Linked DNA regions of Homo sapiens: region 2 is linked to region 1. The links come from fine-mapping of genetic effects on gene expression. A gene starts in region 1. The other region holds a variant in brackets. All regions are shown on one strand. Distances are from middle to middle.

Region 1 (10,280 bases):
TTGCATGTGCAGTTCACACTAAGGTTCACGCTCCTATGAGAATAATGCTGCTGCTGATCTGACAGGAGGCAAAGCTCAGGTGATAATGCTTGCTGGCCCACAGCTCACCTTCTGCTGTACGGCTGGGTCCTTAACAGACCACAGACTGGTACCAATCTACGGCCTGGGCCCCCCTGTGTTAAACTACCCGTGCATCCCTAGGATAATCCAAGCTTGATACTGCTGGGTTTTTTCTAAGTCCTACTGAATTTGGTATGTCAATATTTTGTTTAGAATTTATTTTTATCTGTAATCATTAGTAAGATGGCCTGTGACTTTACTCTTTTTCAGATCGTCCTTGTCTCATTTTGTTAGAATGAGTCTGGGAGATTTCCTTCTTTTCTAATTTTCAGGAAGTACTTGATCCTTGAAAGTTGCCCTGCAAAATCATATGGGCTTGATTTTTTTTTTCCCAGTGGGAAGATTTTAAACTACTTATTCAAGGTCTTTAAACAGCATTTACTATTCTGGCTTTGTAGTTATTCTTACATGACTGTTATAGATTTTTTTCTTTTTTCTTTTTATTTTCCATAGTCTTTCTTTGTCGCCCAGGCTAGAGTGCAGTGGTGCGATCTCGGCTCACTGCAGCCTCCGTCTCCTGGTTTCCACCGATTCTCCTGCCGCAGCCTTCTGGGCAGTTGGGATTACAGGCACGCGCCACCATGCCTGGCTAATTTTTGTATTTTTAGTAGAGATGGGTTTTCGCCATGTTCACCAGGCTGGTCTCGAACTTTGGACCTCAGGTGATCCACCTGCCTCAGCCTCCCAAAGTGCTAGGATTATAGGCGTGAGCCACTGCGCCTGGCCAAGTTTTATAGATATTTTTTCTAGGAATTTATTAATTTAATTTAAAATTTCAAATATATGGTATATGTTGGTTGTTAGTATTCGTGTATCTAGTTTTAATCTTTATTTGCTATCTATAGATATATATCATTTTCTACCTTTCATTTTCTTTCTTGATCAGCCTCATCAGAGGTTGCTTTATTTTATTCAAAGAATCAACTCTTTTTGCCTTAGTTCACTAATGTGTGTTTTTGTAAAATCTCTTAACTTTTGAGAGCCTTTTTTCTGCTATTTTACCAGCTGTTAAATTTGGTTGCATTTATCACTCTATCAGATTTTCAGCCTCTCTTCTTTTGGCACAAGTGTTTAAAGCTGTTAATTTCCTTTAAAGGATCCTCTTACTGGCTTCTCACAAGTTTTGATATGCAATGTTTTTTAATCACACAGTTTGAAATATTTTATAATTTCCATTGTATTTTATTTTAAAATCGATTGTTTAAAGTTATTGCATAAATAAGTACATTTATTGTTTAAATTTCAAAACATGAAAAACTACGTTCTTGTTTTTATATTTCTTAAAACACTTTTTAGACTTTTAAACTTTCTGTGTTGTGGTCAGGCAACGAAGTTTGAGTGATACTAGTTTTTGAAATTTGTTGAGACTTGCTTTAAATTTCATGAGACTTTATTTTTTCTTTTATTTTATTATTATTATACTTTAAGTTTTAGGGTACATGTGCACAACATGCAGGTTTGTTACATATGTATACATGTGCCATGTTGGTGTGCTGCACCCGAGACTTGCTTTATTTTCTAATGGGAGGAATGTGTTCTTTAACTGCAAGTTTCATGGTTCCTTATAACTTGACGGTTCAAATCATCTACACATTTAGTATTATTTATCATCTTAACCTAAAGGCTTGTGGAACTCTCCCACTATGATAGTGAGTTTGTGAAAATTTCCCTCTACTTCTGTCAGTTTTTGTTTTATGTATTCTGTAGCTTCGTTATTAGGTATATCTAAATTTAGAATATTTTTATCTTCTTCCTGAATTGAGTCTTTTATCATTATGTAGTGTTCCCCTTTCTCCTTCATCGTGCTTTTTTGTATTAATAAAGCTGTCAGTTTAAAATACAATTAACATGTGCATGGTATATTTGTTTCCATTCTTTTCAAGTTTCTCTGTCCTCATTTTGGGTGTGTGTATCTTTTGTAAAAGCACATAGCAGAATTTAAAATCCAACCACATCTTCCTTCCTTTAATCAAGAAGTTCAGACTATTATTATGATTGTTGACTTGAATCTTATAAATTTACTTTCTACTTGTCACTTTTGCTGTGCTTTTTTCTCTCTTCTTGCTTTCTCAATTAATTTTTTATTTGTCAATCTGTTTTTCTCCCTGGTTCAAGAGTTTTGTTCTCTATTTCCGTCATTTAGGAATTGCCTGAGAAATTTTACCATACATATTTAACAACTTTGCAAAGTCTAAATTCAATATCTATATCTCACTTTTTACTGTAGATACCAGTTTTAATAAAGCCTAAACTTACTATCTACATCTCACTTTCCTCTCTTCCTTCTCTCTTTCTCTTCTTTCTTCTTTTCCATATTCTGATTCTTTATGCTTTGCCTCCATCCGCCTTTTCCCTGGAGATTTCACTTTCTTGATCACCCAATGATGATTTAAAAATTATGTTTGTCATCATTTTGCCAGATTCTATTTGAATGTAGCAAGTAGACCCTTCAGAAAAATCACTCACATAAAGAATATCTTCTCTCACTGACTTGGGGGTAGACACCAAGAGTAAAATTTCTAGATCACTTTCAGATTAAACAGATAATGCCAGTTTTCTTCCTTGGTGATTATACCAGCTGATAGTCTCATCAAAAGCATATGAAGTGTTCATTTTCTCAAAAAATTGCTGAGATTGTATTTTACCAAATTAATTTTTGTTAAGCTTCATTTGGGGAAGACAATATATCATTTCCTTGAAATGGCTTTGTTATTAAGTCTATCTAAATTTAGAATATTTCAGTATTTTTTCTCATGTTTACTGAATATTAAGGTCTACTCTTCTGTCAATTACCCTTATTTTTCTATTATTGATTTATATAAGTTCTCTATTCAGAATACCATTCCTGTGTGTGTGTTATAATAATCATACCCAAATATGTACTCCTATTTAGTACATTACTCTAATTCTAATATTAGAATATTCTTTAAAAATGCATTTTAATGACAACTATTACCTGTCTCCTTACATTTTTCTGTATTTTACAACTTTTCAATAGGTTTTGAATACTTGTAAACAGATAAAAATGTTTTATGAAAAATAAAGTATATCTTTCAAAAAAGACGGACAGGAACTATGTGGTTACTCAACAGAGAAATTGAGCCAATTCATTTTAGAAGGAAGCCAACATTAACCCAAAGATGGAAGGGGTTGCTTCCTTTGGGGGTGGGGACATGTGCCCAAGGTTAAGTCACATTGGAAAACAGCTTTGGTGGGTGGACAAATTCCTTGGGAGGGTGGTTTGTTCACGTTTCAGCTGGGATGTTGGATTAGGTCACTCTGCATCTCTGCTAATTGTGAGAGTCCATGATTAATGGTGGACTGAAACACTTGGAAGTCTACAGCAGAAGAATATCTGGTGTGAGATGGATTCGTGTATATCCTACCTAATCCGAGTAAACAAGTCTTCCCCTTTTCTCAGTTCTGTTTTGTGCAGGAGGTGGTCCTGCAGATAGAAGGGGCATAAAAAGGCATTGCCAGGGCAGAACTAATGATTGACTACGTTAGCTCCACCAACAGGATGAGAACAGGGTGGAGCTTTGAATAATGGTGGGTGCTGGGAGAAGTGAGCTTTAGCAGGGACAATGACTGGGGAACTGGGCTGTTTGGTTTGGCACTCATCTCACCCCATGATCTCACCATCCCAGCTCAAGAACCTGTGAGAAGGGTGGCCTGCCTGAGGGGAAATGGGGATAAGGCAGCTGGCTTTGATTTCCCTAGCCCCATCTGATCATCGCTGCTGGGCTATAGGCAGAGCAGGTAGACTTAAACTCATATATAGTCCAAGTGATGTGTTGGGGCTGAGATTGATGGACAACATACATATGTGAAATTCAAGGTACTTGCTCGGGTCTTCATCCATGAAGGGATAAAGGAAACATTTCCCCCAGTGTAGAAGCAAGGGTATGTTTGCGCGTGTGTATGTGTTAGCGTTAATAATAAACTGTGTTTAGCTAGAGATTAGAACCGTTCAAGGAGGTTTAGCATTTTAAGAGAGTTCACAGCCTTAAGAGAATTTTTCTCTGGATAGGAGAATACGGTGTGGAGCATGGGTGGGCGGAGGGAGAAGATAACTTGGGTATGTGGACTGACTAATGCCGAGATGGATCTTCTCAGCTAAGAAAAAAGAAGGAACAAAGTAAGAAGGAGAGAGCGAAGAAGACCCTGAGCCTTTGGCATAGCAAGAAAGTCGGAGGAGGGCAGGAGAGGCGAGAGCAGCGGCCAAAGCAGGGCCGCAGGGCGCAGAGGCCCCCGAGGTCTGGAGGCTGGGAAGTTGGGCGAGGTCAGGGAGGGGCCTCGAGAGCGCGGCCACCCACGATCTGCCCCCTCACTCAGCCTCTAGAAAAGGATCGCGGTCCCAGCGGCGGGTCTGTCTCGGGAACCCCGCGTGGCCGCAGCAGAACCGGCAGCTCCACCCGCGGTGAGCCAGTGCCAGCCAGAGCCTCCCAGCGCCGAAGCGCACCGCGGCCGAGACGGTTCCGCTGAGCGAGCTTGGGCGCCCGGTGAGCGCTCGGGGTGGGTGACACAGCGCTGCCTCGCCCAGTTCGCCTGCCTCGGGAAGTGGGTCCGCTGGGCAGAGGGCGCCCTGGGCAGGGGTCGTCCCCGCTGAAACCTCTGGTTCCTCGTGGGCAGGAGGCGCCCCGTCCTCCTCCCAACGAGCGTAGCGCACCCAGGACACCGCGCCGGGACGCGCTCCTCGGACGGCGACCAGAGGTCCTCGACTCCCGCGTGGCCTCCCTCTTCTGCGCCCAGGTGACCTGACCCAGGGCTGGGGGCACAGGGAGAGGCGCTAGCCTGAAATTGAGGGGGAAGAAATTCCCTCTGATACATCATGTATCATAAACTGCCAGCTTTCAGCTCAGTCTGGGGAATTTGCACAATTTTCGACGATGTGAAATGACTTGAATGTCCTGTTTAGATTTGATTCGTATGATTTCTCTCTTCAGCCCAACTTTTTTAGGGAGGTGGCAGACGGCTGTGTACGGGGGGAAAGGTGAGTCCTGTGTTCTGGATCTGTTCTCCTCTCCCTATCCCTCCCCGTTGGCTGTCAATGTTGTAAAAGGGACATTTCCAACAGCAGCCTTGAATAGCAGGTGTGTGGCAATTCAATGCCAACTTAGTCTTTAACTTCCTCTTATGTGCTTTGGGCCGATTTTACCCAACAATCAGTTGGCAAGGAGGCATGCAAAGAGGCATTAGAAAAATGTCAAGATTTTGCTGAATGTAATGGGCCCTGCACTATCTCATCCTACCTTATATCACCTTTGTTTTCGTGCCACTTCATGTATGTCTACGTTCATCTTCTCCAACCAGCTCCTAAACAGAGGGAAGCCAAGAATACACCGGATATTAGTGCGTAACAAGTATTTTTCAATACATGAAAATGGAAATAGCAGTAACTTTGAGACTTAAACGGTGTTTGTGAGATCTAGTACCATTTGGGTTAATAATATCTCAATTAACAACAACAAAATACTTCCTATGTTACATGTAGAAAGGACTGTATTTTGATCCACTTAGTTGAAATGTGTTGTGGTAGGTAGGAGTCTTGGATAGGCAGTCAGGAGTCTGAAGACTTGCGGAACCGTATCACTAATGATCTAATCAGTAAAGGGAGAAGGTTGGAGCATAAGCTCTTTAGGGTTTCTGCCACTTTTAAAGGTCTGTGATGAAATGAACCTTTGCATTTTCATAAATGTGTTGCATTTCAAAGACTCTTGATCAGAACGTTGGAAATCAAACCGGAACTGTAATATCCTAAAGGAAGATGTGATAATCAGTAATTTAGAAAAAATGAATACCTAGTAAGCAGATTTGGCTTGATCAAAAGCAAATATATGTGTACTTACAGTTTTTTAGATCAAGTGATTGAATAACTTTTTTAAGTTAAATATATCCTCTCTCATTTTTTTTTCTGTATAGAATATGTGTTTTGCTACAAGAAGATGGTTCTATCTACATTTGGGCTGCATGATGCTGATCAATCTGGTTAATGCTGACTTTGAGTTTCAAAAAGGAGTGCTTGCCAGCATCAGCCCAGGAATCACCAAAGACATTGATCTCCAGTGCTGGAAAGCTTGCTCTTTGACATTGATAGATCTCAAGGAACTCAAGATAGAGCACAATGTGGATGCTTTTTGGAATTTCATGTTGTTCTTGCAAAAATCTCAGCGGCCTGGACATTATAATGTCTTCTTAAACATAGCTCAGGATTTCTGGGACATGTATGTAGACTGCTTGCTTTCAAGATCTCATGGAATGGGCAGAAGACAGGTGATGCCCCCCAAATATAATTTTCCACAGAAAATAACAGGAGGTAATTTAAATGTGTATTTAAGAGAATAGCAGTTTACTTTTCTTTAAAAGTCACTATTTAATTCTTCTGATTTTTTTCAAGTTATCCAACAAGGTAGCAAATTTACCATATTTAGTTTTTTTCCCTAAAATGATAGGTTTTGATTCTCATTTTTACTCATTTTACATTATTTACAAACCACACAAGCTCTGACTTACAATTTTAAATGATCTTGGAATATAATACACTTTGGTAGATAATTAAAATTATCCTTGTTTGCCCATGAATAGTTCATAAGAAAGCCATTTAACCCTGTAATTATTCATATTACATTTGTTGAAGAAATTTTAAACATCAGACATGTATTTAGGCTTTTGAAATTAATTTTTTCAATAGGGTTGTATAAAAGCAGGAAATTTAAGAGTCATATTGGAATGAATATTAACAATTTCTTCTTTTAAATCTTACAGGACTAGATTTTACAAAATGAGAGTATTACATTTAAGAGAAAACATGTAAAATACCTCAAGCAAGATGACAGCGACCTGAAAACTTGTATTTATGAGGTCAAATATTTCTTGTCATAGTTATACAAATTATTTAATACTGATAAACGTTGTTTTTTGTTGTAATTGCTTTATTGCTATTGAATTATTCCAATATTTTCAGATAATTTCTCAATTTTTTACTTAGAAGGTGTCTTTTTAAAGTGTCTTTGTTTTAAAGAAAACATCAGTTAAAAGGCAAATGTGATATATTTTTTAGATACAATAGTCAATGGAATAAAATTGTAACCAATTTTATAAGGTATCTTATATATTAATATTGACTATTAAACTGTGCCAAAACTAATGGCAGTATTATCCTAAAAAGTAATATTTAATGTAGTATATTTTGTGGTTTCTGAAATGTACATTTCATTACCAAGCCATCTTCTATATTAAAGTATTTTTCTATGCATTAAGGACTAAAACCTTTTTATGTTCTCATTTTTATTGTCTTTGTTTTGAAAAAGGAACAATAAACAAAGACAGAAACTTCATTTCAGTAAAGTACAATTTGATAGAATTTTTGTGTTAGCTGAGTTATTTTTTATATTGCCTATTTATATCTCACATCTTATTTCAAAAAGGATGTGAAGCTTTAAAGAAATATACCGAAGAAAAGGAAAACATGAAGTAGTGGAGGAAATTGGAACATTGGGACATGAAGACAGGGAAGTAATACAATGGAGTTACGGTTTAGATTAATACTTTTTGAATGCATGTCGTAAAAGCCTATACCTTTGATAAAGGGTGCCTATAAATTTGGTCTGTTTCCCACTTCTCCTAGTGAAGAGGGACACATGAACAGTTTCAAGATTCACATGCTTATAAGAAAAACCAAACCATATGTTCAACAGAGGTCCAGCCTTTTCCAGGACAAAGAATCAATGAAAATCTCACCCATAGGTTTTCACAGTGGCTACCATGGTTTACAACACTGGTTTCAAGTATCCTTACAATGACAGATTCTCTCCTTTACAGTCTGATTCCAGTACACTCAAACTCAAATATAAAAAGTTTTAAAATCGGCTAAAATAATACTGAACAAGTAACGAACTGCCTGATGGTTTGACTTGATCCAAGAATAAGCTGAATTAAAGGAGGGACGTTCTTTGCATTATTGACCACTTTCAAATTCTGATGATGTATAGACCATTTATTAGGGGTTTTATATATAAACACTCTTAAAATTACATTTTGCATGTAATTTCAGGGGGCTGCATAAACCCCAGGTTAGGAATTTTCAATATTAAAGGACCTCATAGCGTTCGGCAATATTATTTCATATAACCAATTTTGCATGAGTAGCAGATAATATAAGATTGTAGGGCTAATAATTTCCTAGATTGAAAACTTCTTATCTTGCCAATTAAGGGTGGATCCCTAAGCTCAGAAAATCAACTGGTTGGAGGGTAGGGCTAATTAATGTTCTCATAAAAATGACCAGACAGCGTGTAAACATGAGTGATTTTATGTCCATTAAGCTTTTGATTTGTGGAATTTATATGACAAATAATTAGTCTGATATGAGTTTTTAAATTTCAACATATTTTCATATTGACACTTTATTACTGTTTAGCTCTAATCGAAAAGTGATGATTCATTTGAGAGGAGTCACATTTATGTGACAGGAGTAAAAAGTTGAGTTAATCTTGCCAAGAACTTTCCTGTCCTTTCTCATCTCCATATTGAACATCTGTGTTCTTTATCATTAAACTGCTTTTGGTCTAAAAAAAAAAAAATGACCTGACAGCTATCCACCTAGAATTCATTTCCTGCAGAGGAGCCGAAGTGGTACCTAGAGGCAGTATTACAGTTTTCCTCAAAAAAAACAGTTCTCTTTTACAGTCTGTGGGCAAATGATTGAAGCTCAAAAGTTCAATGCTGTAAAGTGAGACCATGTACTTTTAGTCTAAAAAATTGTTCAACCAGTTGTCCTCAATCACTCATAGTTGTCATGACAATTTTATTGCAGCGATGATAAACATTTTAGCTTAAATCAATAAAATTAGTCTTCCAGTTAATGGCAAAATGGTTTTCTAGTTCTTTTAATTGAATTTACATACTACATTGGGTTAAAAATAAGAACATTTGCTAAACTGGGCAATCTGGTTTTAAAACAACTCATCTTAAGCTTTTTGATGATGATTACATACCGTAAATTCCTCCCCGTTTTTGGCACAAATAGTGTCATCTGCATATAAAAAAACTTTTTCTTTCTGTTCATCATTCATTCATTCAACAAATATTCATTAAGCTTTAGGGTATATTAGTGAACAATCCAGACGTAATCTTTGACTCACAGAGTTGACACTGAAGTGGGACAATGCAGGGATAGACTGAAAGATCTAATTCAAAAGCAATTTTATGATATCAAAATAGAAGATAAAAAAGAAGGTGGTCAAAATGAAGCTGAATTGGGACAATATGTATTTCTCTTTTGTCCTATTCAAAATCATTTGACAGTCTAGAGATCATTTTAAAAAACAAACCACCAATTCTTGCAGTGGTACCATGGTAAAGATTCAGTTTCACAGCTTTGGGTTTATGCTGAGCTCATTTGGCTTAGCTCATAACCGATTATTTTTCAGAGAGCTTAAGGCTGAGGAGAAAAAAGGTGGCAAAGGATCTAATATTGACCCCACAAATATTTCTTCATAAGATGATACAAGGGATAATAATTATCTATGTCTAAAGTTCCTCTGCTGTTTCTATCGAATCTTTATTTTTTCTTTTTTTGAGACGGAGTTTCGCTCTTGTTGCTCAGGCTGGAGTGCAATGGCGTGATCTTGGCTCACTGCAGCCTCCGCCTCCCGGGTTCAAGTGACTCTCCTGCCTCAGCCTCCCAAGTAGGTGGGATTATAGGCACCTGCCACCATGCCCAGCTAATTTTTTGTAGTTTTAGTAGAGACAGGGTTTCACCAGGTTCACCAGTCTGGTCTCAAACTCCTGACCTCAGATGATCCACCTGCCTCTGCCTCCCAAAGTGCTGGGATTACAGGCGTAAGCCACCAAGCCTGGCCAGAATCTTTTTTAAACTTTAAATAAACTTTTAATTTTGTTTATTTTTTAAACTTTTGTTTTAGGTTCAGGGGTACACATACAGGTTTGTTCTATAGGTAAACTCATTTCACGGGGGTTTGTTGTACAGATTATTTTGTCACCCCGGTACTAAGCCTAGTACTCAATAGTTATTTTTCCTGATCCTCTCCCTCTTCCCACTCTCCACCAATCAAGTAGGCCTCAGTGCCTGTTGTTCCGCATTTTGTGTCCATGAGTTCTCATCATCTAGCTCCCACTTAAGTGAGAACATGCGGTAT
Region 2 (10,280 bases), 54 kb before region 1:
TGGAGAGAAGCAAGGCAGGACACAGGGAGAATGGAAAGGACCAGATTCAATATTCCAATAAGAAGGGCTGATGATTATAACAGCGTAGATAAAGACAAGAGGATGGATTTCAGAGAGATTTAGGATAAAAAACTGACAGGGCTTGTGTAGGTGGTGAGAAGAATCAGTATATCATAGCTTACACATTCACTAAGTTATGGGGATGGCCGAAAAGTTTTTTAAAAGTTTACTTTTATCCATATTAAGTTTAAGTGACTAATGGGACATCTAGTCAAAGAAGATGTCCGATGGGCATCTGGTCTAAAGAACAACAAAGGCCAGGTGCAATGGCCCACACCTGTAATCCCAACACTCTGGGAGGCCAAGGTGGGTGGATTACCTGTGGTCAGGTGTTTGAGACCAGCCTGGCCAACATGGTGAAACCCTGTCTCTACTAAAAATACAAAAATTAGCCGGGCGTGGTGGCACACGCTTGTAATCCCAGCTACTCGGGAGGCTGAGGCAGGAGAATCACTTGAGCCCGGGAGACAGAGAGAGCCGAGATCATGCCACTGCACTACAGCCTGGCAGACAGAGCAAGACTCTGTCTCAAAAAAAAAGAAAGAACAATGAAAAGATTTAGGTATCAGCTACAGATCTGGCAGTCATCAATATTATTAATTGTAACTAAAGCAACGGGAGTGAGTAAGATAGAAAATAAGGTTAGGACAGAACTCTGAATAATGTTACTTAAAGGATGAGAAAAAAGAGCCTAAAAAGTAGACGGAGAAATAGTGTAAGAGTAGAAATAGAACCAGAAGATTACCGGTCACAAAACTAAGAATGAGAAACAAGAGGAATTAAACAATGTGCCAAAGCTGAAGCAAGATAAAAACCTGGGAAGTATGTAATGGGGATTTGGAAGCCCAGGAGTGTTTTATCCACTGCAGTAGTTTGAGGAGCAAATGAATGTAGAGGAAATGGAGACAACAAGTTTAAGTAATTCTTTAACTGACATCAAAGCTTTAAAGGTGGAGTATGTATAGACTGTAATTATGTTATTTCATATAGTCTTACATTCCTATGTATTAGACCAAATACAGAACACAGTAAAACAGAAAACCTACTTTTGTAAGCAGTATTATGGTTTCAAAAGCTGTCCTGTATTGAGTGTGAGAAGAAAGCTGAAATCCAGAAATATCAACCTAAAAAAAAGAGAAGGAAAGAGACAGCCTTTAACATACGAAGAATAGCTATACATTTCTATGTTTTAAAATGTTTTACTCTCTCAAGCTAAAAACAATTTCTCTATACTCTACTTGTTACTTAGTAATTCAAAATAAGTAACAGAAATCGAGGTGTTAAGATAACTTTAATTATTCTGATAAAATTACAGTTATTAATAAAATAAAAAACTAGGATAAGACAATTTGTATGAAGACAATCTCATATATAACTCTAGCATCATCAGTGAAGAATGAAAGAGATACTATGATACTATATAATATGGTAGTATGCTGGAAATCTTAAGGAAATACATGTTGGCAAGTATGGCCAAACTTACATATGATATAGTAAACAATGTCACTTCCATCCCCATATTATAAAAGACTTAGTGGAGTAACATATGCTACCACTTTCTTATTTATAAAAAAATTCTAGAAAAACTAAATTCACTGGTTTTCAATTTATTTGAATATCACATTAGTATACATATGACTTACAACAAAAAGTAGTTGTCTAGTTCTTTCTATATGCTTGAGGAATTTGTGGCCCATTCCTTTGTTCATATGTGCTCCTTCTATTAAACCCGGAAGATCAGCTACTGATATCTAATACAAAGTTAAATGGTTAATGAAAAAGGAAAATGTATGAAAACCGCAAGTTCAATTACATCCCAAAATTTTTAAGATATTTCAAATATAAACAGTTCCTAACTTATGATTACCACTACATCTTTGAAAAGCCAAGTATAAGAGTAAAATTAATGTACAGTATTAAGAATTAAAATTTTGTTATCAGATATTAGAGTCCCATATTTACTATTAATCTAATAATCTAGGAATTTTACAGATTAGTTTAACATTTGTTTATTTATTTATTATTATTATTTTAGAGACAGGATCTTGCTCTGTCACCCAGGCTGGAGTGCAGTGGTGTGACCATAGATCACTGTAGCCTCAAACTCCTGGGCTCAAGCTATGTTCCCACCTCAGTCTCCCAAGTAGCTAAGACTCCAGGTGCGTACCGCCATGCCCAGTTAACTAAAAAAATTTTAGTAGAGACAGGGTCTCGCTATCTTGCACAGGCTGCTCTCAAACTCCTATCCTCAAGTGATCCTCTCACCTTAGCCTCCCAAAGTGCTGGGATTACAGGCGTGAGCCACCACACTAATCCCTAGTTTAAAATTTATTTATAATTTCCTAAATGGTATTGTCCAATATGAACTTTTCACAGAATTTCAACCTTTATACTCCAAATTCGTAAAAATCTATGAGGTTATTAATTCAGCAGACATTTACCAGGTACAGCTCTGTATTTTAAATTCAATTTGTAATTATTTATTTGGCACCAATTGTTCCTTTTCTGTTCATATTATACTAGCAGGATTATCGACCATTCTTACAAAGTATTAGGTTGGTATAAAAGTAACTGTGGTTTTGGCATTACTTTTAAGAGACTTTACTACATTAATAGAGGTGTGATTCTCCTCACCTGTTCTTTGCAGTGCCATGTTTGTTAATGCTTCACATTTTTGTAGGTCATTATTGTTTATACTTAAGCAAATCTCATGGCATTACATGAGGAGCAGAGTTCTATCATCTAGAAGTTCATTCACCTGAGCATGCTTCCTTGTCACCTTGTCATCATCTCATTTTGTGCCAGTATTCAAGTAAGATCAGTCAGGTGAAACAGCACTCGACAAACCCAAGTTGTAGTTGTGGCTCTCCTACTTTCTCCTACTTTTGGCCATTACTTTTAATGGCCAAAACCACAGTTACTTTTGTACCAACATAATAAAAGAATACAGTTTCCTAGACTCCTTTTAGAGGGAATAATCATTATTAACCATCATTTTACACTTGTGCTTTTCTTTTCTTTTTTTGAGAGAGTCTCGCTCTGTCGCCCAGCCTGGAGTGGAGTGGGGCAATCTTGGCTTACTGCAAGCTCCACCTCCCAGGTTCACGCCATTCTCCCGCCTCAGCCTCTGGAGTAGCTGGGACTACAGGCACCCACCACCACACCCATCTAATTTTTTTTTTTTTTTGTATTTTTAGTAGAGACAGGGTTTCACCATGTTAGCCAGGATGGTCTCGATCTCCTAACCTCGTGATCTGCCTGCCTTGGCCTCCCAAAGTGCTGGGATTACAGGTGTAAGCCACCACACCCGGCCACTTGTGCTTTTCAAACCTCACTGTGCATCATAATCACGTAGGGAACTCTTAGAAGCTACAAATGCCCAGGCCCTACCCCCAAGAGATTTAGTTTCAAATCTCTGGGGCCTAAGCATCACTCATCATTGCTGTTCTTAGACCACCCAGATAATTCTGAAGTGCAATAAAGAATGAGAGGCAGTACTCGACATCCCTTGCCCAGTGTAGATAAATAATTCAGGGTCTTAAAGGAAGCTGACAAAGCAGCATGCACAACAGAAGTCTCATGTCCTGAAATTTCCTCTACTGATTTCCCTTAAAAATTCGGTATAAATGATGTTCTCTTTTCCTCTAAATATTGTTCTATATATTCATATTATCCTATATTTAATACAATTTTACTTACAGTTAACATTCTATATTATAACTGGTTTTATCTTTTACTGTTATTATCACTATTATAACCAAATACTTTTTTATGTTTCTTTAAATTATGTCATAAAACTGTATGAACCCATATTGATGCATCGTTAGCACCCAAAGTCTATACTTTACATTGTTGCATTCTTGGTGCTGTACATTCTATGGATTTTAACAAATGTATACTGTGTCTACCATTACAGCAACACAATGTTGCTGTAATATTATATAGTATCATACTTTACTATATGTATTGTACTTTATAGTGTACCCTAAAAGTTCTCTGTACTCTGCTTATTCATCTCTCCTTCCTCCCTAACCCTGGAAATCATTCATTTTTTTTTTTTACTGTCTCCACAGCTTTGCCTTATCCAGAATGTCATATAGTTAGAATCATACAGTATCACACAGTCTTTTCAGATTGGCTTCTCTCACTTAGTATTACGCATTTAAGGTTCCCCTAGGTCTTTTTGAGGCTTGATAGCCCAGTTCTTTTTAGAGCTGAATAATAATCCACTGTCTAAATATATATCACAGTTTATTTACCCATTCACCTACTGAAAGATATCTTGGCCAAGGTTTGGTAATTACAAATAAAGCTGCTATAAGCATCCATGTGCAGACTTCTGTGTGTGCATAACTTTTCAATGTACATGGGTAAATGCTAAGGAGCACAACTACTAGATTGTACATTATATTTTAAATATTGTTACTTTCCTTTTTTTAGTTTTTTTCTAATTATACAGAAGATCCACTGTTGTTACTTGTGAAGGAAAAAATGAATTTTAATAGCTGGTTGAGACCAAAACTCCATTAAAACATTTTCTTTCTCAAAAAAAGAAAAGTTGGAATAAAATCATTACCATGAACTTTAGAGAGCATTTTTAAAAAATGAAGATAAATAATCCAATATAGTAGTAAAAGAAAGACTTGCAATAAGAAGAAACTAAGGCTAAGAAGAAGACATAATGTTGTAGGGATAAACTGGACCTAATCTTTGGAAGAAGAAATTAAATATATTATGATAGTGCTCAGAATTAATTTGACCAGTTTCACTTAGCATAAACAAAATCTTGTTACTTTTTCTCCCCTAACACCACAGAAACAGGCAAAAACTATAATATCCAAGTACGTACCAAAACCAAGTACTTTTGACTTCTAATATAGTGTTTTACTTTAAAAATACCTACCTGTTTGAAATCACTGTACATTATCTTTCCAAGTTCAGGCTTTAATGTTGTAACTAAAAGGAAACACAGCAATAAATTAAGGCTAGAATTTATTTTAGGGCTGGTACTCTCAAAACTGTCTTGGTATTATGCATAAACAATATTTCAATTCAGATTTTGTTCTAATTTGCTAAAATGGAAACTATTATTATCTTTGCTATTTAATATGTACTTGGAGGGCCAAATGTTGTGGCTCATGTCTGTAATCCCAATGCTTTGGGAAGCCAAGGCAGGAGGATCATTTGAAGCTAGGAGTTCAAGATGAGCCTGGGCAGCATAGTGAGACCCTGTTTCTACAAAAAATGTAAAACTAGGCAGACATGGCAGTGCACCTGTAGTCCTAGCTACTCCAGAGGCTGAGGTGGGAGGATTGCTTGAGCCCAGGAGTTCAAAGTTACAGTGAGGTATGATCATGCCACTGTACTCCTGCCTGGGTGACATAGCTAGACCCTGTCTCTAAAATAAATGAATAAATAGTATTTGGAAAAAGACAAACACAGATTTTTATAATCTGTATAGGCCTAATGTAATTACTGAACCTCAACGTTCTTCTATTGCACTTTAAGGTGAGTGATAGATGTTCAGGAGGGTCAGATATTAAGTTTCTATCACTGGATCTGTGGCTGAAATTTTTCTAGTTCCTTCTCATTCAGTTATCCTCTAGTTCCTTCTCATTGTTATCCTTAAGCCTCATCAATCCTACGCTAGCCTCTTTCCTATGACTTTTTGCTCTTCCTTCTCAAGTCCTACATATATTATAACAAATATTGGCCTTGTGATTTATAGCACTTAGTCCAAACTTCACTCTACTTCGTCACAGTCTAATTTTAGAATGGCTTGATTTTATTTTCCAAGTTAATGGCATTCTGTGTCCTTTTAATGATGGCAGAGATCTTATCATACTCACTACTTTTAACCAAAGCTTCTTTTATATCTCATCTAGCTACCACAAGAGCCTACTAACTGGTTGTCTCAGACCCTTCATGTCCCACACCAATCCATTTTCTACATTACAGGCCGAGATCTCTGTGAGGAGCAAACCTAAGCATTTTATCCCTTGCTTAAATGCTTCCAATTGCTCTTAAGATATAAAAATCAAATACAGCCTAAATGGTCTATGTGACATGCTCTCTTACATCTCCAGGCTCATCTCGATTCTTTCCCTTATTTCATGTTCTCTAGACACACAAATCTACTCCCTGCCACCACTAAG[G/C]CTTTGTGTACATACTATTTCCTCTGATTAAAGACCCTTCACCCTCCACTCTATTTTACTAATTACCTCATAATTATTCCTCATATCCCAGTCCAAAAATCACACATCCTTAAGGAAGCCTAGAGCAGTCATCTATACTCTTTCATAGTACCCTTTCATATTCCCTTATATTTATTAGTGATATGTACGCCTTACTCCACTAGTCTACAAACTCAATACAAGTCAAAACAGGAGCTGTTTCTGTTTATCAGTCTTTGTAATCCCAGAACCTAATGTGGCTCCAAAAATAAGTATCTGCTAAATGAATGATAAGTACCTTCCTGGTACTTATCACAGTGCCTGATAAAAGGTAAGTGGTTCATAAAATCCTAACTAAACCAAATAAACGATTCTGTGACAGAAAAATAAATGCAATAAAGTAAGTGTCTAACCTGTTTAAGCAACTTTGCTGAGGGGTATAGAGGTTTCAAAGATTAATGGAAAATATGGCTGGGGAGGGTGGCTCACACCTATAACCCAGCAATTTAGAAGGCCAAGGTGGGAGATCACTTGAGCCTAGGAGTTCAAGACCAGCCTGGGCAACATGGCGAAACCCCTGTCCCCACAAAAAAAAAAAAAAAGTTAGCCAAGCATGGTGGCACATACCTGTAGTCCCATCTACATGGGAGGCTGATGCAGGGGGATGGCTTGAGCCTGGGCTGCAGTGAGCCATGATCATGCAACTGCACTTTGGCCTGTGCAACAGTAGTCTATCTGCCAAAAATTTTTCAGTTAAGGATACCCTCCGAGTTATCATTTTATTCATTCTCAGAGAAATATTAGTCTTTAAAAGTTTACCTCCACTCATTAAAATGTACAATCAAATTACACTTACATGCGTAATCTGCAATTGCAGGTTTTGCATGAGAAACACAACTTAGCAAAGAGGATTTTCCAGCATTTGGGAATCTGAAACAAGAATATAAAATTATACACAAATGTCAATATTATTATCTCTGAATTCCTAACAATTCAAGTAGACTTCATGAATATATTTGGGATTAAAAGTAGAATATAAATGTATTATAAATAATCTTGAAAAACTTGAGAACATACACTTACATAAAAGGTAAAGATAAATTCATGCTGGACACTGAAGATGTTTCAATATTTAAAGTGTATAATAATTATTCCAATTATGATTTAAAAATAAAAACCCATTGGAAGTCATAGAAAAAACAGAAATTAAAGAAAAAAAAGAAAAACACCTGTAACTTTCTAACTCCAGCTATACACTGACAAAACATTACCTTGTTTTGTAAACTGCTTTAAAAAAAAATTTTATAGACAGTTTCAAACATATACAAAAGTAGAGAGGTGTAATGAATTCCATTTAGCTATCACCTAGCTTCAACAAATATTAATACATTGGCAATATACTTCTTAAAATTTGGTTTGAATAGAAATCCAAGTAAGGTCTGTACGTTACAAATACCCGGTGTGTCTCAAATCTATTTTCAAGCTCCCCCTACCATCTTGTTTCCTATCTGCAATTTTATTTTTAAAGAAACTGGGTCAGTTGTCCTACAGAGTTTCTTTTCCAAAGTCTTCATTTTTCTACTAGCACCTACATGGACACTTAACATGCTCTTTTTCCCTCTATTGTCTGCAAAAAATTGGCAGTTTTTATAGAGTCTTAATGTTCAAGTTTTCATATTTTTTTGAAGGAAGTAGGGGAAAACTACTTTATAGTTGCTTGGCCTACTCTTTAAACTGAATCATATAAGGTGAACACTTTTCAATGGTGAAGTGTAATTTACTTAACTAATTTCCTATTGACAGACTTTCAGGTTGTCTACAATTTTTCACTCTAAACAACATTGTAAAAAATGTGTATACAGGTAGACAGACACTGTTAATAGTCATCTCTGGGTGGTGGAATTCATAGACAACTTTTTCTTTATGCAAACAAGTGTGTATTATTTGTTTTTTTAAAATAACTTTAAACAATGCAATGACTATCTTTAAACTTTTGCAACTTTTTTCATCTTTTCATAGCTTAATAGCTCATATCTATTTATTTATTTATTTATTTATTTATTTATTTATTTATCTATTGAGATGGAGTCTCGCTCTGTTGCCCAGGCTGGAGTGCAGTGGCGTGATCTTGGCTCACTGCAAGCTCCACCTCCCGGTTCACGCCATTCTCCTGCCTCAGCCTCCCAAGTAGATGGGACTACAGGCGCCCGCCACAATGCCTGGCTAATTTTTTTTGTATTTTCAGTAGAGATGGGGTTTCACCATATTAGCCAGGATGGTCTCAATCTCCTGACCTCGTGATCTGCCCACCTTGGCCTCCCAGAGTGCTGGGATTACAGGTGTGAGCCACCATGTCCGACCTATTTCTTTTAATGTTTTTATTTCAATAGCTTTAGGGGTACAAGTGATTTTTTTGTTGTTGTTGTTACATGGATACATTGTGTAATGGTGAAGTCCAGGATTTTAGTGTACCCATCACCCAAGTAGTGTACATTGTACCCAACAGATAGTTTTTCATCCCTCCCCATCCTCCTGTCCTCCCTCCGAGTCTCCAATGTCCATTATACCACTCTGCATGCCTCTGTGTACGCACAGCTTAGCTCCCACTTATAAGTGACAATATGTGGCACTTGGATTTCCGTTCCTGAGTTACTTCACTTAGGAAGATGTCCTCATTCTTTTTTATGGCTGAGTAGTATTCTATGGTGTGTGTGTATATATAGATACACACACACACACACACACACACTCAATTTTCTTCATTCATTGGTTGATGGGCACTAAGGTTGATTCCATGTCTTTGCAATTCTGAATGATACTGTGATAAACATGTGTGCAGGTATCTTTTTAATATAATGACTTCTTTTCCTTTGGGTAGATATCCTGTAGTGGGATTGCTGGATGAAATGATATTTCTACTTTCAGTTCTTTGAGAAATCTCCATACTGTTTCCATATAGGTTGTACTAATTTGCATTCTCACTCAACAGTGAATTTTAGTGTACCCATCACCCAAGCAGTGTACATTGTACCCAATAGGTAGTTTTGCATCCCTCACTGCCCTCCTATCCTTCCTCCCTCTGAGTCTCCAATGCCCATTATAACACTCTGTACGTCTTTGTAAGAGTTAAGTTCCAAGATGGCCAAATAGGAACAGCTCTGGTCTACAGCTCCCAGCAAGATCGACACAGAAGATGGGTGATTTCTGCATTTCCAACTGAGGTACCTGGTTCATCTCAATGTGGCGGGTTGGGCAGTGGGTGCAGTGCATGGAGGGCAAACCAAAGCAGGGTGGGGCGTTGCTTCACCCGGGAAGCACAAGGGATCGGGGGATTTTCCTTTCCTAGCCAAGGGAAGTCGTGACAGTCTGTACCTGGAGGAGTGGTACACTCCTGCCTAAATACTGCGCTTTTCCCCAAGTCTTTGCAATCGGCAGACCAGGAAATATCCTCCCGTGCCTGGCTGAGCAGGTCCCAAGCCAACGGAGCCTTGCTCACTGCTAGCGCAGCAGTCTGAGATTGACCTGCCATGAGCTGCAGCTTGGCAGGTGGAGGGGTATCCGCAATTGCTGAGGCTTGAGGAGGCGGTTTTGTGCTGACAGTGTAAACAAAGAGGCCTGGAAGCTCGAAATGGGTGGAGTCCACCACATCTCAGCAAGGCCTACTGCCTCTCTAGATCCAACCTCTCTGGGCAGGGCATATCAGAAAAAATGGCAGCAGACAGCTTTGGCAGACCTTAACGTCCCTGTCTGACAGCTCTGAAGAGAGAGTCGTTCTCCCAGCATGGTGTTCAAGCTCTGAGAAGGGACAGACTGCCTCCTCAAGTGGGTCCCTGACCCCCGAGTAGCCTAACTGGGAGACACCTCCCAGTAGGGGCCAAGAGACACCTCATACAGGGGGTTGCCCCTTTAGGACAAAGCTTCCAGAGCAAAAATCAGGCAGCAATATTTGCTGTTCTGCAGCCTCCGCTGGTGATTCCTAGGCAAACAGGGTCTGAAGTGGACCTCCAGCAACCTCCAAAAGACCTGCAGCGAAGAAGCCCGACTGTT

The links. PIP is the estimated chance that this variant, and not a neighbour inherited with it, causes the effect.
Region 2: its variant is fine-mapped to the expression of FAM237B in thyroid (GTEx, PIP above 0.99).

Annotation. Positions count from the first base shown.
Region 1 is chr7:90,315,514-90,325,793 of GRCh38, reverse strand. It overlaps FAM237B (family with sequence similarity 237 member B), which reads left to right and starts at 4,490. Exons shown (of 3, transcript NM_001384237.2): 1 at 4,490-4,872; 2 at 5,067-5,113; 3 at 6,043-8,987. The coding sequence starts at 6,046. The coding sequence ends at 6,465. It also overlaps a transcript of CFAP69 not described here.
Region 2 is chr7:90,369,038-90,379,317 of GRCh38, reverse strand. GTPBP10 (GTP binding protein 10) reads right to left here. Exons shown (of 10, transcript NM_033107.4): 5 at 7,090-7,163; 6 at 4,964-5,016; 7 at 1,704-1,811; 8 at 1,107-1,184. Among named protein-coding and RNA genes, the nearest start is that of GTPBP10, 27 kb to the right of the region's middle. The variant G/C (reference allele first, on the strand shown) is at 6,216.